Regions from separate parts of the Homo sapiens genome. Here region 1 is linked to region 2. Evidence: fine-mapped expression QTL. A gene starts in region 2. The other region holds a variant in brackets. All regions are shown on one strand. Distances are from middle to middle. Region 1 overlaps RNASET2 (ribonuclease T2). Region 2 holds the start of RNASET2 (ribonuclease T2).

What was found. PIP is the estimated chance that this variant, and not a neighbour inherited with it, causes the effect.
Region 1: its variant is fine-mapped to the expression of RNASET2 in nucleus accumbens (GTEx, PIP above 0.99). The same link has a PIP of 0.9 or more in whole blood.

What each region holds. Positions count from the first base shown.
Region 1 is chr6:166,927,064-166,939,417 of GRCh38, reverse strand. RNASET2 (ribonuclease T2) reads left to right here. Exons shown (of 9, transcript NM_003730.6): 6 at 410-523; 7 at 5,282-5,327; 8 at 8,300-8,374; 9 at 9,627-12,354. The coding sequence ends at 9,830. Among named protein-coding and RNA genes, the nearest start is that of RNASET2, 23 kb to the left of the region's middle. The variant A/G (reference allele first, on the strand shown) is at 5,060.
Region 2 is chr6:166,953,371-166,965,305 of GRCh38, reverse strand. RNASET2 (ribonuclease T2) reads left to right here and starts at 8,756. Exons shown (of 9, transcript NM_003730.6): 1 at 8,756-9,209. The coding sequence starts at 9,124. RefSeq lists a cis regulatory region at 5,720-6,006, an enhancer at 6,687-6,806 and silencers at 7,771-7,820, 8,091-8,190, 8,231-8,990.

The DNA of each region.
Region 1 (12,354 bases), 26 kb after region 2:
ACATGCCTACCACATGGGAATAGTCTGTGCTGAGAGAAAACATGCTTGAGCATTTTAATTGGGAATCAGTTTCATTACTTTTTTTTTGAGATGGAGTTTGTCTCTTGCCCAGGCTATAGTGCAATGGCATGATCTTGGCTCACTGCAACCTCTGCCTCCCGGGTTCAAGCGATTCTCCTCCTCAGCCTCCTGAGTAGCTGGGATCTCAGGCACCTGCCACCACACTCGGCTAATTTTTTTGTATTTTTAGTAGAGACAGTTTCACCATGTTGGTCAGGCTGGTCTCAAACTCCTGATCTCAGGTGATCCACCCCCTTCAGCCTCCCAAAGTGTTGGGATTACAGGCATGAGCCACTGCACGCAGCCTGTTTCACTACTTTTAAGTGGAGATTTTTCCTAATCCTCACAGGAAGCATGAGTGGGAAAAGCATGGGACCTGCGCCGCCCAGGTGGATGCGCTCAACTCCCAGAAGAAGTACTTTGGCAGAAGCCTGGAACTCTACAGGGAGCTGGACCTCAACAGGTGGGTGCGCCCTTCCCCCGGCTGCACTTCCCAGTGGGGATCTCTGCTGTCGCCCAAGCCTGACAGCTGGATCCAGGGGAGTGGGTGTAGACCTCACTGCCCTCCAGCAGCTTCTGCATGTGCACTATTCGGCTACTGGGATCATTCCTGAGGAATGTTCTGAGCCTACCAAGCCTTTCCAGATCATTCTACATCACGATCACACAGAGTGGGTGCAGAGTATTGGGATGCCCATCTGGGCACCATCTCATCATCAGAGTCGGCCATAGGGAAAACGAGGACTCCAACCAGCATGTGCCGTTCTCAGCCATGATTCCTGATAAAGGATAGTGCATTAATAAGTCGTTTCCTTAGAAAGACGGAAACTCTGGAAGTCTGTAGGTCTTTGCCGCAGAACTCCTGGAACAAGCAGGCAGGAAAGAGATGTGGGCCAGGGTTCTTTAAGCCCCAGAAATGACCCCAACCTGCCTAAATCGTCCCTGCCTGCCCTCACCTCTATTCTTGAGAAGTGGAATACGTTGTCCCACTTGAGCCAGTTGACTTGTAAAGCAAAGTGCCTTCTGAGCGCCACACCGAGCCCACTCACTGTCCGAATCTGGTTGCTAGAGAGCCAGGGTGTGCCCTTACCTCTCCGTCGGGACGTTTCAGGGTGTCAGCGTCTTAGCTGCTCTCACTGACCTTCATCATAAGAGGTCATAATAAACCAGTGAAGTCGTGAAAAACATGACAGGCAATTGCACAGCCTCTGTGTTGCTGCTTTTGGAATTCACGCAGCTTGTTTTAGAGCAATTCTCCTTCAAATCAGAATAATACCAGGAGCCTTAGCTAATCAGCTGTATTTAAGGTTTCTGAATCAAAACTGCTTAAAAGATGAATAAACCTCCATTGCTTATCTAGACATGTGCTTTGCCTCCTCAACGTACAAAATCGTCTCACACAGATGGTCTCCTGTGTCATCTGATGAAACGCAGTCTAACAGCTGCAACTTGGGTGGGATAGAGCTCAGGCACTGATAGAAGAGGGGCTTGGCACGGTTAGCGGGGATCAAGATTACATCAAAGAATGCCCTGTGAATAAACTTCTTTAAAAATCACCTCCCAGAGCGCGTGGCATTAGGTGTGCCTTTTCATCCTGGTTCTGACACTAACTAGTTGTACAATTTGTGTATCTAACCTCTAGCTCTTTTTTCCATGCTGTGAAATAAATGGATAGGTTGCCCTCAACCCTGAAGTCTCTTCCAGCTCTTAAAATCTGCACTACCAGGTATATACACTAAGAAACGTACACAGACCTATACACTTTGATTTGTATATAGTTTGTGTATATAATTTGATCTATGTAATTTAATCTTAGGTTTTTAATAAAGGAAGCATTGCTTTCTTGCAGTAAGAGCAATATTTTAGGAAACATTTTCTCACCTAACAAATGTAGCTAATTAGCTGTTCAGAAATCATTATGGGCCATGTGTGGTGGCTCATGCATGTAATCCCAGCACTTTGGGAGGCTGAGGTGGGTGCATCACCAGAGGTCAGGAGTTCAAGACCAGCTTGGCCAACATGGTGAAATCCCATCTCTACTAAAAATACAAAAATTAGCCAGGTGTGGTGGTGCATGCCTGTAATTCCAGCTACTCGGGAGGCTGAAGCAGGAGAATGGCTTGAACCCAGGAGGTGGAGGTTGCAGTGAGCTGAGATCGTGCCATTGCACTCCAGCCTGTGCGAAAAGAGCAAAACTGTCTCAAAAAAAAAAGTCATTATGAGGATTAACCAAGAGAGTGTCTTAGGTAGCTCCTGGAGCACAGGAGACTTGCAGTTAAAAAGAAAGTCTGACATTGCTGAAAGACTGGCAGGGTAGGACCCACTTTGGAGATGACAAGAAAGATGCCCTCTGTTTCAAAACAGGGGTCTCACAGTCCTGACCCTGCTGCAGAGTGCTGGTGTTTTCCAGGCTGACTCCATAAACCAGTTCATTTAATCAAACAGAGAAAGGATAAATGGATACTACTGAAAATTTTAAAATCAATCATCTAAATAATTCATCTCTGTATCCAACAAATAGTTTATTAAGTGGCTCCTACTTACACTCGTTGAAACTCAGTAGCTTTCCTGCTATGGTTTGGATGTGGTTGGTTTATCCCCACCAAATCTCATGTTGAAATTTGATCACCAGTGTGGAGGTGGGAGGTGTTTGAGCTGCGGGGAAGGATCCCTCATGAGTAGGTTAATGCCCCCTTGCAGGGGTGAGCGAGTTCCCACTCAGTTCCCCAGAGAGCTGGTTGTTAACAGGAGCCTGGCACCGCCCCCAACCCCTGGCTTCCTCTCTGGCCATGTGATCTCTGTACACACCAGCTCCCCTTTGCCTTCTGCCATGAGCGGAAGTTTCCTGAGGCCCTTGCCAGAAGCAGAATCTGGTTCCATGCTTCTCGGACAGCCTGCAGACCCCTGAGCCAAAAAAACCTCTTTTTTTAAATAAATTACCCAGCCTCAGGTATTCCTGTATAGCGACACTAGACAGACTGAGACACACACACACACACACACACACGACACATGCAAAACTCTAAGTCCTGGAGTTCCTGTGGGGATTCAGCAGAGCCCAGTGCTGCCCTGCCATTGCTGTAGATGGGAATGGTGCGTCCTCCATTCATTCATTCATTCATTCATTCAGTAAATGTTCACTGAGGGCCTGCCAGGGCAAAGCACTACTGAGAGTATGTTTGCTAAAACCTATAAAGAACAATTATAGGAAAATTATATTCTTAGTTTCTCCAAGGGAAATCTATAATTCTTAGTGCCTTCATTTTAATCTAAAAATTAAATTAAGAAGTCAAAATTTAAGACCCCTCATTTTTCCTTGTAAACTGGTATCACAAATTATCTTTTTCTCATAGGTTGGCTTTTCAAATTATCATAAACTGGAACAGGCTGGGCACAGTGGTTCACGCCTGTAATCCCAACACTTTGGGAGGCCAAGGCGGGTGGATCATGAGGTCAGGAGTTCATGAACAGCCTGGCCAACATGGTGAAACCCCCGTCTCTACTAAAAATACAAAAATTAGCTGGGCATGGTGGTGCACGTAATCCTAGCTACTCAGGAGGCTGAGGCAGGAGAATCTCTTGAAACCAGGAGGCGGAGGTTGCAGTGAGTCGAGATCGCACCACTGCAGTCCAGCCTGGGCCACAGAGCAAGACTCTGTGTCAAAAAAATAAAATAGAATAAAAAATTGTAGCTTGTTTTTCTTCACTTCATAATATGAAGGCAGCAAACCTGAAAAACCACAAATCATCTTGAAGCAAAGTTGTCAGGGTTCCCATAGACACAGATGAGCTGATGGCACGTGCTAGAGTACCCACAGATAAAGACCTGGGATGCGTGCCAAGCTCATCTCAACTCAGCAGAAAGCATGATGCTGGGTTAGGTGCTGCATTTCCCCACATCTTTCTCTCTTTGCCGTATTCCCTTGATCACCCAAGTCAGGAGCATGCTACCCAATAGACGTGTAACACGAGCCACAGATGTCATTTTAAATTTTCTAGTAGCATCATTAAAAGGAGCAAAAAGAAACAGGTTAAATTAATTTCAAAAATATTTTATTAAACTCAATATATCAAAAATAGGATCATCGAAACTTAGGATAAATATTAAAAAATTAATAAGCTAGTTTACATTTTTTTTTTTTAACTGCAAAGTCTGAAACCTGTTATTCATACAACACCAACAGCTAGGGTAGGCGAGGTCCTGTGGGTTCGGGCCATGATGGGGCTGAAAGGACCCTGGTCCGGCATCTCGGTCCTTGTTCCAGGAACTCTGTGGCCAAGACAGTCTGACAATAAGTTATTGCCCACAGAGGATGTCTAAGTCTTTGTGTCCACTCTGTGATCGTGATCTAGAATTTTCTACCAAGGCTTGATGGGGAACTAGGATATTCTTCTGCAATGATTCAGAATTTTACAGTGTACCTTTATACTTTAATAAGTGAATTCTATATATGGTAGTTTGGTAGGATTCTGTGTAGAAGTGCTTTAGGAGGTGATTGAAAGCTGTAGGGACTTACCATACGGTTATGTATTGCTTGGTGATGGGGTATAAAATTGTCATGTGAACATCTTGGAGTGCACTTACTTAGCTGATACAGCCCACGACACACATATGCTTTGTGGTATAGCCTGTTGCTTCGAGGCTACAAACCTGTACAGTGTGTGACTCTACTGAGTACTGTAGGCACCTGTATGTAACACAATGGTAAGGATTTGTGTATCTAAACATATCTCAACATAGAAAAGGCACAGTAGAAATGTGGTCATATGGGACCGCCCTCGTACATGCAGGCCTTCACTGACTGAATGTCGTAATGTGGCGCATGACTGTGTTTAAAGATTTGTCCAAATGCAGTTTACCAGGATAAGCCTGGAATCCGATTTCAATTGCTGTCTTTTAAAGCAGGTGTGGCAAACGGGTGGTGATGTGTGTGCCAGCTCCACTCGGTGGTGGCCCCAGCGCTCCCATGCTCCGAAGGAGTCAGGAACTGGAAAGGGT[A/G]CCTGCCTGGAGCAGTTTGTGTGTGTGCTAAGGGGTGGGGAAGGCGGGGACTGGGAACCATGTATTTGCAGTCCATGTTGACACATTTGTTGCATAAAGTCATAGAAAACACTTTCCTTTAAGAGTGTCTTAATTTTTACCATGAAATATGATACCTGAAAAGAACAAGAAAGCAAAGTGGACCTTCATTATACAGCTAACTTTTTTAAATTTAAATTTTAGTGTGCTTCTAAAATTGGGGATAAAACCATCCATCAATTACTACCAAGTAAGTCTTGCTTTTGCTTCTTTTCTCGTGTGTCTCTCCCGGGGACCTCCAGTAGGGCCGTTTCAGCCTCTGAGTCAATGGGCTGTAAATTGCCCCAGTGCAAACCCCCTTCCTACTTAAATGTTATCATGTGAACAGATTTTATTTGCATTTTATTTTCCTGCGCATGTTGAGTAGGAGCTGAAGGCTGCTTAGACCAGTGATTTGGAAGCACAGATTTCATGGCTCCCTTTGTGAGAAGTGTGTGCTCCAGGGTCCGGCAGAGCAGGTGGAATCTGCAGTTTCAAGAGTCACATTCACTTTTATAACGTAGTCTTATATTTGTTTGTGGTTTGTTTTCATGATAAAATTGTGATTTGTTTTATGATAAAAGAAACTATAGATATTTAAGCATGACAAGATGTTATTAGCTGGTAAGCATATACAAAAAGTTGCTTTTTGCCAGGTGTGGTGACTCACGCCTATAAATCCCAGGACCTTGGGAGGCTCAGGCTGGAGGATTGCTTGTGGCTAGAATTTCGAGACCAGCCTGGGCAGCAGAGTGAGACCTCTAGAAAGAAGTAAAAGTAGCTGAGCATGATAGTATGTGTCTGTGGTCTCAGCTATTCAGGAAGCTAAGGTCAGAGGATTGCCTGCGCCCAGGAATTTGAGGCTGCAGTGAGCCATGGTCGCCCCACTGCACTCCAGTCTGGGCGACAGCCAGATCACGTCTCTTTAAAAAAAAAAGAAAAAGTAGTTGTTTTCAACTCTTGGTTGCCTGTTTTTGTAAACAAAATTGTACTCCTTTGTTACCTGGGGATGCTTGTGCTCCCATGGTGTAGCTGCAGTAGGGACCGATGTGTCATCCACAAATCCCGGGATATTTACGACGTGGACCTTTACGGAAAATGTTTGCAGACTCTTGCCTTAGAGAAAGGTATCAGATTCTTTGAGATAGTTTTCGTATTTATCACAGGTTGTGGATTTAGAAAAAGGTTGAAAGTCACTGATCTTAGTAGTTCTGGGGCGATGGCTGGATGTTGAACAATTATTTTGGTATCTTGACTGTTTGTGAAATAAATTGGCAACAGTGTCTTTGCTCTCATGGTGTCTGCTTACCTGTGCAGCCATTTTTCCAGAGTGTGGGGAGCAGTGGACTTGAGGAAGGAGTCTACCAGCCCTTTCCAGACTCCCCCTCAACCCCAACCCCAGGAAGCCGTAAGATGATCGCTTGCAGGGCCCTCACCGTCCTCACCTGGACTCATGTGCGAATAGATGAGGGACATGTGCCTGCCATGTTTGCCCAGAGCTCGGTGTTCAGGGAACTGATTACAGGGGTGGCAAAAGCCACAGGGGCCACACATTTGCTGAGCTGCTTCCAGGTGCGAACGGCGCTTGTTTGGGCATCAGAAACAGCACGGTGGATACTCGGAGTCCTGTCCTTTGAAAGGAGTTTGATTTATCATCAGGAGAAATTTGTTGCTTTTGCATCCAGCATCCAGCCACGTATCCACTCATCTGTTTTATGGGGAAATCAGGGCTGCGGGAGCACCCAGGAGAGCTGCCGACCCAGACATTTCCTGGGAAATGCGTTGCTGAGATGGAGGCCTGCAGCCTGCCCAGGCCCTGAGGGGAGTGGTTCAGTGGAGCAGAGCTGGGGGCTGGGGGCTGGGAGATATGGGACCAGTTGCTTCTTGAGGGGGCTCAGGGGCAGAGCAGGAGGGTTGGGAAGGGGCCGGGTGGGAGCCATAGACATGAGGACCTCATCCTCCAGCAGCGCTGAGCTCTGAGTAGGCCGGGGTGTTTGCTTGTTGCTGTCCCCGTGGTACTGGGGAGAGGCTAGGCACAGAGACCCTCCGAGTAGGTCACATGCTGGGGGAATCTGGGCCTATGGCTATGCAGCTGGAGAGGAAGGGATAGTGTGGGGAGCTTGGACTTGGCCGTTTGGGACAGGGGGATGGGAGAGGCAGAGGTCCTGCCTCAGGCCTCCATAGGAGTGACATTTGCTGGTGTCAGAAGCTTGGCAAGAGGGGAGGATGATCAGACCCTGCATGGACAGTTCGAATTGGAGCTCTCTGCAGAGTCCAGGAAGAGAGGTCTGGATGGGAGGGAAGCCATGGGGTGGAAAAGATAGCTTCCAATGGAAGGCAGTGAAAACTCGCCATAAGTGAAGGAGAAGAAGGAGGCCAAGGAGATGGGGCAGGAATGGCAGCCGGCAGCCAGGCGGTCAGTGGAGCAGGTGCTCAGGAGGCCCACAGGAGAGCTTCGTGGAAGGAGTGGACAGTGTCTGAGGCAAGGGGCAAAAGGCATCTGCTGGAGCTGGTGACCCCAGCTTGGTGCCCCCCAAAGCCAGAGTACGAGGCTGAGAGGATGCAGGTGTCCTCCTAGGAGGTTTGAGTCAGAAGGCACGAGGCAGAAGCAGTGGGGGAGGACTCCCTCAGTAGAGCGAGGAGGAGGCCCCTCATCCAAGAGGAGGTTGGAGCACAGGGGGGTCTAGGTTTGCAGTTTCGGGACCGGTAGCTGAGGGGTCCCAGGGCCTTTCTTCTGTGAAGGAGAATGTGTCCACCGTGGGGAGGGGGTCGGGAGAGAGAGATACTTCAGAGTGGACAGGGCTGAGAAAGCTTTATGGGCCGCGAAAGGCAGAGTAGTTGTTGGTGGATGAGGGTGGCTGTGGCAGGTGGCGTTTCAGGTGAGACAGCTCGGGGCCCAGAAAGACACTGGGAGGAGGAGAGCTCTGCTCTCCAGAGAAACAGGAGCAGAGAGGAAAACAGAGCCGCAGCGAGCGGCTTGTGGTCTGGGGATGAAGCCCAGGTTGACAGCATCCTCTGCTTCGCTGGTGGAGGTGGGGGCATCATTCTCACACCTGTGCTGGGTCCTGTCCCTGCCAGCCAAGGGAGACCAGGACCCTGCCACTGTTGCGCTCAGGATAGTCCAGAACTGTCAGATCTTTTCTGTTGAAGTTTAATTTCTAATACACTTGTATTTAAAATCAGGTTGCAGATTTTAAAGATGCCCTTGCCAGAGTATATGGAGTGATACCCAAAATCCAGTGCCTTCCACCAAGCCAGGTTAGACAGTTATGTTTTGTCTTCCTTTTTTTCTCAAGAAGACAGGTTCTACTTTTCTGATGGCCTTGTCTTCACCATGCAGTTCCCTGGGGCAGACTTGTATTTGTGCATTTGTGTCTGTATATGTGGGCATGTGGTGTGTGTGTGCATGTGTGTGTGTACATGCATGTGTGCATGTGCTGTGTGTGCATGTGTGTGTACATGCATGTGGGCATGTGCTATGTGTGCATGTGTGTGTACATGCATGTGGGCATGTGCTATGTGTGCATGTGTGTGCATGTCCTGTGTGTGCATGTGTGTACATTATGTGGGCATGTGCTGTGTGTGCATGTACATGCATGTGTGCATGTGCTGTATGCGCATGAGTATACATGTGCGCATGTGCTGTGTGTGCAAGTGTGTACATTATGTGGGCATGTGCTGTGTGTGCATGTACATGCATGTGTGCATGTGCTGTGTGTGTGCATGTGTGTGCATGTTCTCTGTGTGAACATGCATGTGGGCATGTGTGTGCATGTGTGAATGTGTGCATGCATGTGAACGTGCTGTGTGGGCATGTGCGTGTGTGTGTGTGTGTACATGCATGTGGGTATGTGCTGTGTGTGTGCATGGGCCTGTGCCTCTGTGTGAATGTGCATATGAACATGTTCATGTACTGTGTGTATGTGTGCACATATGGGCATGTTCTGCATGTGTGCACAGGCCTGCACATCTGTGTATGTGAGCATGCATGTGTGTCTGTGTGAGCATGTGCTGTGTGTGAGCAAGCATGGTTTCTTGACAGCATGCTAGGACAGGGTTTGTCTTCTTGCTTATCTTTAACAAGAATATACCTGTTCTTTTAGCAATAGGGTACTGTTGCCCTTTTGGCCTACAAAAGCCATTTCTTCTCCTAATATCTTGATAGATATGTTGAGTGCTGTTGTATCTGTGTGTAACTTTGTTAATTTTCTCTAACATAAAAGCAGAGGCTTTTCACCAGGGCACCAGGCTGGCCTCTGGTGGTGACCAGGGGATCCAACCCCCAAGCCCAGCTCCACTGCCCACAGGCGAGTCACCTGGGGCCACTCCTTCCAATTTAGTGCACAGCAGCCTTCTGCTCAATGAAGGGGTCCGTTCTTGGAACCTAGAACCTGTGGTGTGGAGCCTCTGCTTTTGTTATCTTCTAAAAGTTCTAAAAGTTCATGATCTTAAGACCTTGATGATAATCCAAGATCTGAATTCTAAAGCGTCTTTCATTGTTTACTTTTAGGATGAGGAAGTACAGACAATTGGTCAGATAGAACTGTGCCTCACTAAGCAAGACCAGCAGCTGCAAAACTGCACCGAGCCGGGGGAGCAGCCGTCCCCCAAGCAGGAAGTCTGGCTGGCAAATGGGGCCGCCGAGAGCCGGGGTCTGAGAGTCTGTGAAGATGGCCCAGTCTTCTATCCCCCACCTAAAAAGACCAAGCATTGATGCCCAAGTTTTGGAAATATTCTGTTTTAAAAAGCAAGAGAAATTCACAAACTGCAGCTTTCTAAAAAACAACTCCAAAGTGAAGTCTGTTTATTTTGCTGTTTCCCCTCCATGCCTGTGAATTGGATGTTGTGGTCCCTGTAGAGTGAGTGCATGTGGCGTACACGGGGAGAAAGGAGCTCTCCCACGCCTGAGTGGCTGTTTTGTGCTTGGGATAAAGCTCACAGATTGTTTTTTTTTTTCTCTATTAAACTCTTCAGTGCCCTGGTAGATCAGGCAGGCATACTTGGAATTTAGACAGATGGCACCGATTCAGGGGACTCTCTTGCTCGAGTTTTCCCCTCGGAGCCTGTTGCCTTCTTGGCGCAGGGACCCTGTCAAGACGAAGAGCTCCACGCATGGCAGGAGCCCACGCTGATGCCTGGTGGGCCTGGGGGGTGTCTCTAGCTCAGACTGGGTCTGTTCCATGTGACCAGAGCCCCAGGACATCGTTCCTTAGCCAGCTGCTCCGTTGTTGGAGGCCTGGTGTGGTCACAGGTGTGTCCTAGAACGGTGACTTTGCCCCTCCTGCCCTAGGAGATTTGGGTGTATTCACAGAGCAGCCATCTCCTGTCTCCGTCAGAGCAGTCTCTTCCAGGTTACTGGAAGGTCAGTTTCTGTCAGGCCTCACTTCCTTCTTATCAGAGGGTAGCCAGGTCCCTGCACTGGTATCTATTTAGAAATGTACATGGAGCCCCCAGCGAAATGTGCCTACATTGTGTGTTCCAGAACCGGAGGTACCCTTACCTTCTAGATATGTGATGACATGGCTCTCACGTCAGGCAGACTGCTGCACCCACGCTCTCGGCCTGCCGTGCAGGGATTTCACTCGTGGAGTGAGGCATCTGGGGGCTGTGCAGTGAGGAGCTTTCCATGTGTTGTTAAGACAACCTGTTAGCATTGTCTTCTCCCGCGTCTCCTGGCCTCTTCTCTCTTTAAATCCTTTTCTCTGTTTGTCTTAATCACATTAACGTCCTATTTATGTTTTATTCAATATACATTTAAAATAGAACTTACTATGTGCCAGGCATTGTGTTCAACACGTGAAATATTTAATCCTTAGAATAACCATATTGTCAGCATAATTTACAAAAAAAAAAAAAACAGCTGTATCAATGCCTGTGAATATTCGGCTTTACTCGCCCATTTAAAGAAGAGATTTTCAAATTGGCTCAAACCAAAACCTCACTTCATGGTGTCTACAAGACAGTCTGAAATGCAGAATGTTCAGAGAGAGACAAAGGTTTACCAGGCAGATGGGACGGTGAGAAAGTAGGTGTCGCAGTCCTGATCCTAGACTCAGTGGCCTCTGCGTCCCCCGCAGGCATTAAAGGAGACACAGGACGGCCTCTGGCCCTCTGGAAACAAGCTCTGCAGTAAGAGCCTGAGACAGGCAGCACCCAGCCAGGCCTGACAGCTTCTGCAGACAGACAGAGTGAGATGATGGGGGATTTGATGGAAGCAGTCCCTGTATTTTGTCTCTTCTGTAATGGAGGAGCTGAGCCCTCTTCTGCAAGCTGTGGGGAAGGCTAGCGGAGCCCAAGGGTCCAGGGTCCCCACCTTGTCATTGTCCCTCGGCCCTTCTCTGAGCTCATTTCTGTCTCCAGTGTTTTTCTGTTGGCTTGGCAGGGCAGGATTTGTTTCTGTCGGGAACTGATGATTTGTGTTTTGATGCCTGTGAGAGGGACAAGATCTGATTTGTTTTGCACCTGGAAGGGCGTGATTTCCTGCATTTGCTCTGCGTCCTCAGGGAGTGGGTGTACTTTAGAGTTGGACTCTTAAGCCTCAGAGTCCTTTAAATGATGTCAATTCTTTTTTTTTTTTTTTTTTTTTTTGAGTCATTTTGCGAACACAGGGATCAAGGCTTGGGTTTTATCTTCATTATTCCCAGAGGAGCTGGTGAATTTGAACAGACTTCCTATTCAAATTGCATTTATTTTATAGCCTTGGGGGGTCAAGGAAAGCAGCTCTTCAGAGGCTGTCTGCAGTCGGCTGGCCTTTGCGGTTTTTAAAGAAGCCATTCTTTTTTTTAAGTAGCGTGTATTTATTATATGAGTGTGAGCATTTGAGAGCGGATGGGGACGCCAACAAGGTAGCATCCTGGTGGGAGGCATGGGCTGCGGAGTGCTGGTTTCCTGCCATTGTCACGTCAGCTAAATGGAAGAAGGCACTGGTGAGGGGCTGGATGGTTCAAAACATGAGCACAAGCAAATGCTTGGCTCTCTTAATATTCCTATTTTGGCCTAGAGCTCAGGAGCAGGTAGAACATGAGCGTTTGATAACCTGCCTCAGATCATGTAAGTATAAGGCACTTATGAGCCGCAGGAGACAGAAGGGGAAGACTCTGCGTTTAAGGTTCAGTGATGGAGATCAGATCCAAGCACATGTTTTTACATCATTAAACAAGTAGGTCGTGCATTTTCCAGATTCAACTCAGGAAGATGCAACTCTGACCACACGGTTCTCGCTGTAACTGGGCGGAGGT
Region 2 (11,935 bases):
TGATGGCTCATTCCTGTAATCCCAGCACTTTGGGAGGCCAAGATGGGCAGATCACGAGGTCAAGAGATCGATACCATCCTGGCCAACATGGTGAAATCCTGACTCTACTAAAAATGCAAAAATTAGCTGGGCATGGTGGTGCACACATGTAGTCCCAGCTATTCAGAAGGCTAATGCAGGAGAATCGCTTGAACCTGGGAGGCAGAGGTTGCAGTGAGCTGAGATTGCACCACTGCACTCCAGCCTGGTGACAGAGCGAGACTCCATCTCAAAAAAAAAAAAAAAAAAGGAATCATAGATGACACAAAGAGTAAAGCATTTGATGCTCATGGATTGGAAGAATCAATATTGTTAAAATGGTCATACTGCCCAAAGTAATCTATAGACTTAATGCTATTCTTATCAAACTGCCAACATCATTTTTTCACAGAATTAGAAAAAAACTATCCTAAAATTCATATGGAACCTAAAGGAGCCTGAGTAGCTAAAGCAATCCTAAGCAAAAAGAACAAAGCTAGATATATCATACTATCCAACTTCAAACAATACTATAAGTCTACAGTAGGCTGGGCTCGGTGGCTCATGCCTGTAATCCCAGCACTTTGGGAGGCTGACTTGGGCGGATCACGAGGTCAAGAGATCTAGACCATCTGGCCAACATGGTGAAACTCCGTCTCTACCAAAAATATAAAAAATCAGCCAGGTGTGGTGGCACGCACCTGTAGTCCCAGTTACTCAGGAGGCTGAGGCAGGAGAATCCTCAGCTTCAGGAGGCTGAGGCAGGAGGCGGAGGTTGCAGTGAACCAAGATTGCACCACTGCACTCCAGCCTGGGCCACAGAGTAAGATTTCATCTCAAAAGAAAAAAAAAAGACTACAGTAAACAAAACAGCATGGTACTGGTACAAAAATAGACACACAGACCAATGGAACAGAGTAGAGAACCCAGAAATGAAGCAGCATACCACATACTTACAGTCATCTGATCTTCCACAAAGTTGACAAAAATAAGCAATAGGAAAAGGACTCCCTATTCGAAAAATAGTGCTGGGATAGCTGGCTAACCATATGCAGAAGAATGAAACTAGACTCCTATCTTTCACCAAAAGTTAACTCAAGATGGTTTAAGGATTTAAAAGACCTCATACTATAAGAATCCTGGAAGAAAACCCAGGACTCACCATTCTGGACAATGACCTTTGGAAAGAATTTATGACCAAGTCCTCAAAAGCAATTGCAGCAAAAATGAAAGTTGATAAGTGAGATCTAATTAAACTAAAGAGCTTCTGCACAGCAAAAGAAACTATCAACAGAGTGAACAATCTACAGAATGGGAGAAAATATTTGCAAACTCTGCCTCTGGCAAAGGTCTAATATCCAGGATCTACCATAAAATTAAATAATTTAACAAACAAAAACCAAATAATCTCATTAAAAAGTGGGCAAAAGACATGAATAGACACTTCTCAAAAGAAGAGATACAAACAGCCAACAAACATATGAAAAAATGCTCAATATCAGTGATTGTTAGGGAAATGCAAATCAAAACCAGAACACCAACCAGAATGGCTATTATTAAAAAGTCAAAAACCCCAGCTATGGCAACATGGTGAGGCCTTCATCTCTATACAAAAAAACTTTTGTTTTTTTTTGAGATGGAGTTTCGCTCTTGTTGCCCAGGCTGGAGTGCAGTGGCATGATCTAGGCTCACCACAACCTCCGCCTCCCGGGTTCAAGCGATTCTCCTGAATCAGCCTCCCAAGTAGCTGGGATTACAGGCACACACCACCATGCCCAGCTAATTTTGTATTTTTAGTAGAGATGGGCTTTCTCCAGGTTGGTCAGGCTGGTCTCGAACTCCCAAACTCAGGTGATCTGCCCGCCTCGGCCTCCCAAAGTGCTGGGATTACAGGCATGAGCCACCTCGCCCAGCCTACAAAAAATTTTAAAAAATTAGCCAGGCGCTGTGGTGTGTACCTGTGGTTCCAGCTACTCGGGAGGCCGAGGTAGGATAATTACTTGAGTACAGGAGGTCAAGGCTACAGTGAGCAATGTTCACGACATTACACTGCAGCCTGGGTGACAAAGTGAGACCCTGTTTAAAAAAAAAAAAACAACTCAAAAAACAACAGATGTTGGCAAGGCTGTGGAGAAAAAGGAACATTTCTACACTGTTGGTGGGAATGTAAATTAGTTCAGCTACCGTGGAAAGCAGTTTGGAGACTTCTCAATGAATTTTAAAAAGAACTACCATGGTCAGGCGCGGTGACTCACGCCTGTAATCCCAGCACTTTGGGAGGCTGAGGCGGGTGGATCACCTGAGGTCAGCAGTTCGAGACCAGCCTGACCAACATGGTGAAACCCCATCTCTACTAAAAAATACAAAAATTAGCCGGGCATGGTGGCGGGTGCCTGTAATCCCAGCTACTCGGGAGGCTGAGGCATGAGAATCGCTTCAACCTGGGAGGCGGAGGTTGCAGTGAGCCGAGATCATGCCGTTGCACTCCAGACTGGGCGACAGAGCAAGACTTCATCTCAAAACAAACAAACAACAAAAAAAACTACCATTTCACCCAGGAAAAATCCCATTACTGGCCATCTATCCAAAAGAAAACAAATCATTCTACCAAAAAGACACATGTACTCTCACGTTCATCACAGCGCTATTCACAATAGCAAAGACATGGAATCAACTTAGGTGCCCATCCATGGTAGGCTGGACAAAGAAAGTGTGGTATGTATATACCATAGAATACTACACAGCCATAATGAAAGAATGAAATCATGTCCTTTGCAGCAACACGGATGCAGCTGGATTATTCTAAGCAAATTAATGCAAGAACAGAAAACCAAATACCATACCACATGTTCTCACTTAAAAGTGGGAGCTAGGCTGGGCACGGTGGCTCACGCCTGTAATCCCAGCACTTTGGGAGGCCAAGGCAGGTGGATCACTTGAGGTCAGGAGTTTGAGACCAGCCTGACCAATATGGTGAAACCCCATCTCTACTAAAAATACAAAAATTAGCTAGGCAGCCGGGCATGGTATTTCACACCTGTAATCCCAGCACTTTGGGAGGCCGAGGCGGGAGGATCACGAAGTCAGGAGATCGAGGCCATCCTGGCTAACACGGTGAAACCCTGTCTCTACTAAAAATACAAAAAATTAGCTGGGCATGGTGGCAGGTGCCTGTAGTCCCAGCTACTCGGGAGGCTGAGGCAGGAGAATGGCGTGAACCCGGGAGGCGGAGCTTGCAGTGAGCCGAGATCGCACCACTGCACTCCAGCCTGGGCAACAGAACGAGACTCCGTCTCAAAAAAAAAAAAAAAAAAAAAAATTAGCTAGGCATGGTGGCCCTCGCCTGTAATCTCAGTTTACTCAGGAGGATATGACAGGAGAATTGTTTGAATCCAGGAGGCGGAGGTTGCAGTGAGCGGAGATCAGGCCACTGTACTCCAGCCTGGGCGACAGAGCAAGACTCCAATGTCAAAAAATAAACAAATAAGTAAGTGGGAGCTAAACCCTGGTTACCCATGGATGACAAGATGGCAACAGTAGACAGTGGGGACTATTACAGAAGGGAGGTAGGGAGCAGAGCAAGAGTTGAAAAACTAACTATACGATACTAGGCTCACTACCCAGGTGACAGGATGAACATACCCCCAATCTCAGCATCACGCAGTATACCCGTGTAACCAACCTGCACATGTACCCCCACATTTAAAATAAAAGTTGAAATTATTTTTTTAAAAAATACTTATTAAATATCTATTAAATTGTTGTTGTTGTTGTTTTGAGAGGGAGTCCAGGCTGGAGTGCAATGGCGCCATCTCGGCTCACTGCAACCTCCGCCTCCTGGGTTTAAGCGATTCTCCTGCCTCAGCCTCCCAAGTAGGTGGGATTACAGGCACCTGGCACCACGCCTGGCTAATTTTTTTTTTTATTTTTAGTAGAGACTGGGTTTAACCATGTTGGTAGGGCTGGTCTTGACCTCCTGACCTCAGGTGATCAGCCTGCCTCAGCCTCCCAAAGTGCTGGGATTACAGGTGTGAGCCACCGAGCCCAGCCAAAATTAACTGTTAATGTAATATTAAACTATTATTTGTAATGCAGAAGGGCTTATCTAAAGTAAAGCAGCTCAGTTATGTAGTAAAATCTCAGAAGTCTAAAATGCCTTGCTTATCTTTTTAAGATAAATAATTGTAAGACAGCTCAAGTAAGCAGCCTAATATCCACGTGTATAGGAGTATGTGTGTGCATGTGTGTGTATGTGTGTGCATGTGAGTGTGTGTGTAAGCTCATGGGTTTTTTTCTTTTCCTTTTTCAGAGTAAATATGCTTTGAAAATTTGACATCCATGATTAAATGTAATATATTGCTTTGCTTCACATTTCATAATAGCATGCTATTTGATCTGATTTATTCTTATTGTCTAGTTCCAGAAAGTTTTTTCCCTCTGGTTCCATCAGTTAAGTCACACTTGAAGAACAAATTATATTGTGAGAAACACATGACTGGTCTTTTCTGTTTCTCTCCTGTCCTCCTTTTGTCATGGCCACAGCTCAGAATAAAAGAGTTCCACAAAATGTGTACCACAGTGGCCAGGCTGGCATGGCAAGGCCAGAGGTGCTGGGACACCCTGACCAACATGGTCAAACTCCGTCTCTACTAAAAACACAAAAATTAGCCGGACGTGGTGGCACACGCCTGTAATCCCAGCTACTCGGGAGGCTAGGGCAGGAGAATTGTTTGAGCCTGGGAGACGGAGGTTGCTGTGAGCCGAGATTGTGCCACTGACTGCACTCCAGCCTGGCTGACAGAGTGAGACTCTGTCTCAAAAAAAAAAAAAGAAAAAGAAAAAGAAGAGAAAGGGCAGGGAAACACCCAGCAGCTGGCCTCACTTTCTCAGCAAATAAGTAATTCAGGATGGAAAGGAGTTTTTAAGGTGAGATTCTTTCAAGTGTGACAAAGCTCTTTAGAGCATGAGAATCCTAAACTGTGTAGTTGTGCCACTGCTCTGCCATTGGAATGGCCAGCACCAGATATGGGCTGTTCCTACCGCCTGGGTTCCAGAGTGAAAAATACCGTGGACCACAGTGGCATCTGACGCATAGCCAGCATGGAATATGGGCAAATGAATGATAAATGATCAACTTCCGTTTAAGTGAGACACTGAGATTTGGGGGCGGTGTATTATTGTAGCATAACCCAGCAAAAGCTGGCATGGAAACAGGAAACCTGGAGCTAATGCCAAGAAGAGGTTGTGTGGTGAAAGTATCTTGGTCTCTTCAGAATTAACAAGGATTTAAGGATGTCTGTTCATAGACATGGCTGTTGCCATCCTGTCCCCCTCCCCTCTCCTAAGGACATGTTTCTATACAAGCCAGCAGCATCTTTTAAACCTCATAGTTTGTACCCTTTTACACTATGTTGTGTGAGTCAATGTAATTCCCACTCTGGCCCCTGCCCACCTGCTTGATGCTGGAGCCCTCTTTGTTTTCGTAAAGCTGGGCGGCTTCCAGACCCAAATCCAGCCTTTACAGCCACTGCCTCTTCCCTACGTAGGGTTCCGTTTAGGATCCTGGTAGGTGGACAAGTAGTGAACAAGACAGATGACAGATGCTCCAGGTTCACATCCAAGTTTTGGGGGGTTGAGAGCTTTTCCATTTGGATGTCCTTCTTTAAGAACAAGAAGGTAAAATTGTGAATACGGAATGAGATATGGGGTCTTGGTGGGGCCCATGCCAGCAAGGGGCCTGAAGCTCCTCATTAGCTTCCGATGTGGGGGTGGGGGAGTAGAAGTGGGCAGTACAGGAGGAAGTGACAAGAATTCTCAGGGGTGGGGAGAACTGTGTCGAAAATAAACAAGGAAGTGCAACAGGAAATGACTGGGTGGCTTCTTCAGGCTGGGTAGGACGCTGCTGAATTTATCTGATAAAAATCTCCTCTCTGTGAGTTGTGGAAAGTGGCTTGCTGCGAGAGACCCCCTTCTTCCCCACATAACATAGGTAAGAGTGATAGAAGTGATGCAGCTGGGCGCTGTCTCCAAAAAAAAAAAAAAAAAAAGGAAAAGTGACGGATGCTCCCCTCACTCCACCCCCTACCCATTACCTAGGACAAAGCCAGACACAGATCCTCCAATTCCCATTCTTCACCTCATCAATGATGAGCCAGTCAATAGAAATAACACACTTGTTAAGCAAACTTGGTGAGGCTCCTCTCTTCCCCCGAGGCTGAGGACTTTTGGCCTCATCTTAGCCTGAGTCAGTCCCCCCTGAGAACAGGCTGGCCACGGGGTCAACCTTCTCTGATCTAATGTCCTATGAAGGCAGGTTCTCATCCCACTTCTCCATTCCCAGTTCATTCTTTCTCTCTCTTTCTTTTTCTCTCTTTCTTCTTTCTTTCATTCATTCTTTTTGTTGTTGTTGTTGACCGAGTCTCACTCTGTCGCCCAGGCTGGAGTGCAGTGGCGCGATCTCGGCTCACTGCAACCTCTGCCTCCTGGGTTCAAGCGATTCTCCTGCCTCAGCCTCCAGAGTAGCTGGGATTGAGGGAAGAGAGAGACCCTCTCATATTGTTTTATATTGTTTTATACTCAGTACCTGTTTTAAGAAAAAAACAAGGAAGTGAAATCAAAGACAGGCAGCCCGGCGCCAGGCCCAAAACCGGACCTGGGCCTGCCTGGCCTAAACCTAGTAGTTAAAAATCAACTCATGACTTAGAGACCGATGTTATTCATAGATTCCAGACATTGTATAGAAGAACATTGTGAAACTCCCTGCCCTGTTCTGTTTCTCTCTGACCACCAGTGCATGCAGCCCGTCACGTACCCCTTGCTTGCTCAAATCAATCACGACCCTTTCATGTGAAATCTTTAATGTTGTGAGCCCTTAAAAGGGACAGAAATTGTGCATTCGGGGAGCTCGGATTTTAAGGCAGTAGCTTGCCGATGCTCCCAGCTGAATAAAGCCCTTCCTTCTATAGCTCGGTGTCTGAGAGGTTTTGTCTGCCGCTCCTCCTGCCACAGGATTACAGTCGCGTGCCACCCCCGCCCAGCAAATTTTTGTATTTTTAGTAGGGACAAAAGGCCCCCAGGCCCCTGCAATAATGGTCCTCATAACACCACTCCTCCCCGAGTCCAGATTTGCTTTATATTTGGCAGTGGTCACAACAGCCCTCCTTGACAAGGGGCTGTTTAAACACACCGGACTGTGATTTAAAGGAAAATGAGGATTCTGGGAAGCACTTTTGTTTTAAGAAAATTATTTTTTTAGCTTAAAAGAAAAGAGAAAAAGAACTGTGGCGTGTGCCTATATTCTTGAGAGGAAGGAATGAAAGGAGCCGGAAAGAAACAAATAAGTCGTTAGGGAAAAGGAGAACGAGAATAACACCATGACCTGTAGGAGGTCCTGGAGGAGCTAAGGAGGTGTCAGCCATTTTCCCCCCCCATCTGTTCCACAGGTGGCATTTTATTGAGCACCGACTGTCCCCCATCCACTGTGCTCAGTGGCAGGGACTCAAGGTGGGCAAAATAGACATGGGCCTTGCCTTGCAGTCTAGTGGGAAAAACAGATTAATCATTTAAATATTTTGTTTCAAAGAATGGTAATGCATGCAGGCAAGGTCCAGGCCTGTGGGAGAGCAGGCTACAGGCCCACCTGCTATTTAGACAGTTACCAGTGGCAGAGGACCCCGAGGAAGGCGCAGTTTACTCGACGTGTAAATAGGAATAGCCTTAACTAGCTGTGGGTGTGCGGACAGGGAAGGGAAAGAGGAGAAACATCTGCAGAGACAATGCCGGGTGCACAGCCCGTGGGCGGGGCCGCGGGTGCAGGGGAACCCGTGCCTCTGAAGGGCTGGGAAGGCCAGGGTGTTGGGGGAGGAGACCGGGCCTATGGGACTGGCCCTGGCTACGCCAAGGTGGGGCTGACATGAAGTCCCCTTCATCCGTGGGGGGTGGCCCGTCCCTCTGGGAGGGGATCCCTCACAAGATGACTTCCCAGGTCGCGCCCCGAGGCGGCTCTTTGCTGCCCCCACAGAGATGACTTCCGGGCTCCTGGGGCCCGCGGGGAGGGGCAGGTGAGGCCCAGGGCTGGGTGAGGGCCAGGCCCTTCTAGGAATGTTGGTGCTCCCAGCACCTAGCACCGGGAGACTGGAGAGGTTTCCAGGAGAGTGACCCGAGTAGGTCCCCTCCTAATTCTGGAGCCGTCCCTCGGGCTGCGCAGTGGAGCGCCGAGGTGGCGGGAGGCTGCGGGGAGCCTGGGCGGCCAAGCACCATCTGCAGTCAGGAGCTCCCGGGCAGCTTGCAGGGCGCAGTTTTTGAAAGCGGGTGCTGCGTGCGGACCGCGGGCCTGCAGGGTGCGCGGGTCGGGCTGGGGGCTGTCCCTGGAGAGTAGAGTGGCCCTGGGGCCCGCACGCCCACTTGCTGGCGGGGGATGGCGCAGACACGGGCGGTCCCCCCGAGGGCGGTCCTCACGGGTGGTCTAGGTTAGCTCGGACCCGGGAGTGTGGGAGTGGCGCAGAGCTGCGGGAAAAGGCGCGGGGCGCCTGCGTGGCGAAGGAACACAGCCGCCTGACACGCCCTCAAGGCCCGCGGAGCTGCTCCTGCCTCGGCCTCTCTGAGCCAACCACGGGGCGGGGCGTGAACGCCGGGCGGGGACGTGCCGTTCTGGGGGGCGTGTCCACCGGCGGGGGCGTGCCGTCCTGGGGGCGTGGCTCTCTGCTCCGGTGCAGGCCCGCAGGGCGCCCTGGGCTGGGAGCAACGCGACTGACCGTGGTCGTGGGCGGACGGCGGCTGCAGCGTGGAGGAGCTGGGGTCGCTGTGGGTCGCGAAGCAGAGCCCGGGACGTGCGCGCTTGGTGCACGATCCTGAAGGGGAGCTCCGAGGGGCCCGGGTCGCCAGGGCTGCTGCGGCCATTCCCGGAGCCCGGCGCGGGGCCCGCGAGATACTGGTTTAGGCCGTCCCAGGGCTCCGGGCGCACCCGGTGGCCGCTGCTGCAGCGGAGGGAGCGCGGCGGCGCGGGGGCTCGGAGACAGCGTTTCTCCCGGAAGTCTTCCTCGGGCAGCAGGTGGGAAGTGGGAGCCGGAGCGGCAGCTGGCAGCGTTCTCTCCGCAGGTCGGCACCATGCGCCCTGCAGCCCTGCGCGGGGCCCTGCTGGGCTGCCTCTGCCTGGCGTTGCTTTGCCTGGGCGGTGCGGACAAGCGCCTGCGGTGAGTTACCTTGCGAGGTAAAGTGGGGAGCGTGGGAGCCGGGCCCTAGAGCTTTCCACTGGGTGAAGGCTGCAGCTCTCGGGGTCGGCGGTCGCTGAGCCCCGGGCAGCGACTGGGGAGGGCGGGGGGAGCCGAGCACGCTCCGGGGTGACCCCTGGGAAGAAGTTGGGAAGTTGAGCACGCCTCGGGGTGACCCCTGGAGGGAGTGGGTTGGGGGGAGCCCTTAGCACACTCAGAAGTGACCTCTGGGAAGGAGTGCGATGAGGGGAGTCCTGAGCACGCCCCGGGGTGACCTCTGGGAAGGAGTGGGTTGGGGGGAGCCCTGGGCACGCTCTGGGGTGACTCCTGGGAAGAAGTGGGTTGGGGAGCCCTGAACACTCCCCGGGGTGACCCCTGGGAAGGAGTAGGGGGTAGGGTGAGGTCCTGGGTACACTCCAGCCTGGAGCTGGACTGGAAACTCATCCCACAGACTGCTCCCAGCCTAGGACGCGACAAAGCAGGTGGCAGGCTTGGTGGAGCACTGTTCCTGCACTCGAAGTTCTCTCAGAGGTCGAAGAAGTCGTGGAGGGGACACTTAATTTCAGCTTTCACTGCGGCGGGTGGTGAAACGACGGTTCTTCCTCTTTTTGAGTATCCTGTTCTGAATCCCTTCCCTTGGCTCGCCCTCCGCGTGTGTGTGTGTGTGCGCGTGTGTGTGTGCGCGTGTGTGTGTGTGCGTGTGCGTTTGTGTGTGCGTGTGTGTGTGCGTGCGTGTGCGTGTGCGTGCGTGCGTGTGTGTGCGTGTGTGTCGTGTGTGCGCGTCTGTGCGTGTGTGTCGTGTGTGCGCGTGTGTGTGTGTGCGTGTGTGCGTGTGTGTGCGTGCGTGCGTGTGTGCGCGTGTGTGCGTGCGTGTGTGCGTGCGTGTGTGCGTGTGTGTGTGTGGCAGCCGCCCAAATTAATTAGGGGTAAACAGGCGGTGCTGCAAAGAACTCCAACTTTAATTCTGTGGAAGATACCAATATTTGAATACCATATTATTTCTTTCTATTTGGGTAATGATCGGGTTAATAGGATTTCTTACTTACATAGTAGGTGTGGAAAAGGTGGGTTTTACTTATTTATTTTTTTTTAGACAGTCTTACTCTGTCACTCAGGCTGGAGTACAGTGGCGTGACCTCAGCTCACTGCAACCTCCACCTCCCGGGTTCAAGCGATTCTCCTGCCTCAGCCTCTGAGTAGGTGGGATTACAGATGCACACCACCACGCCTGGCTAATTTTTGTATTTTTAATAGCCAGGCTGGTCTCGAACTTCTGACCTCAGGTGATCCGCCCGCCTCGGCCTCCCAAAGTGCTGGGATTACAGGCGTGAGCCACTGCACCCGGCCAGGGTTTTACTTTTTAAACACCTTAGGTATATATTTTTAATCATGTACATTAAAATGTAGCATTATATTTCAGTGTTCCGGAAAGTGTATTTTCTGAAAAAGAGCTACATTTATGTCCTTATTTATTGGCCATGAGGTTCAGAGCCTCTCACTGGGGAAGTCTGTGGCATGCTGGCCCTTGCTGGCTGAGTGGAAACTGCTAGTTCACACCCAGGTGTGGGACCTTTGAGCTCTCTATGCCCCAGTTTCCTCATCTGTAAAGTAGAAATAGTAACAGTCAGCCTCACAGAGTTGGCTTCAGGAGAAATCAGTTAAGGTACAGAATGTAACTTGGAATGATGTCTGGCTGGAAGTAAACATTAGCATAAAACAGGCTGTCATATGTGGATCCCCCACCCCAGCCCATAATTCATGCAACTGATATGATCGGACAAACTTGAGCAGGCAAGATTTGCGAGAACATGGTTGATTCAGACCACGAGGGCTTCATAGGTCAGCGGGCATTTTCCCAAGTTCTAACTGGTTTTGAGACCTTGGTGATTTTTCTTTCTTCTTTGACTTTCTTTAGCTTCTCCATTACTTTCTCCGTGAATAGGGGAGGGGGGCATCTGTGTGGGAGGGGGTCTCCTGCAGTCACATCACTCTGCCTGGTTTTAGATGGAGAGTTTGTTACAAACGTCTGAGTCTTGGTAGTTTTGTTGTAAGCATATTGATAGTCTCATCTTCCTGGGTGTTGCTAAGCTTTCCAGCCTCAGGTTCCGACTATGTAAAATAAGGTTTTTCACCCAAGGGTAAAAAATGCTTTACCAGCTCCAATTCTCACCCTGCAGCTCATCCTTTTTTTTTTTTTTTGAGACAGGGTCTGGCTGTGTAGCCCAGGTTGGAGTGCAGTGATGTGATCTGGGCTCACTGCATCTTCCACCTCCTGGGCTTAAGCTATCCTCTTGCCTCAGCGCCTTCCAAGTAGCTGGGACTACAGGTTCATGCCACCACACCTGGCTAATTTTTGTAGAGACAGGGTTTCACCATGTTGCCCAGGCTGGTCTTGAACTCCTGAGCTCAAGCAATCCTCCTGCCTCTGCCTCCCAAAGTGCTGGGATTATAGGTGTGAGCCACCACGCTTGAACCCTTTTTTCCTTTTATACTGAGAGCTTGCATAATTAGTTCCAATGTACAACTAAGTTTTCATACCATCTTAACTGTAAATTCTATACAAATTCAACAGGACTCAATTATTTACAAAAGCTAATGTGTGACAACTTGATCTTCTTACTTGGAATCTTCCCTTCTAAAATTTGATTTATCCTGAAGTGTCTGCTTGACTTATATCCTGTGTTGCTGCTGGCTTTTTCCATGTGCAT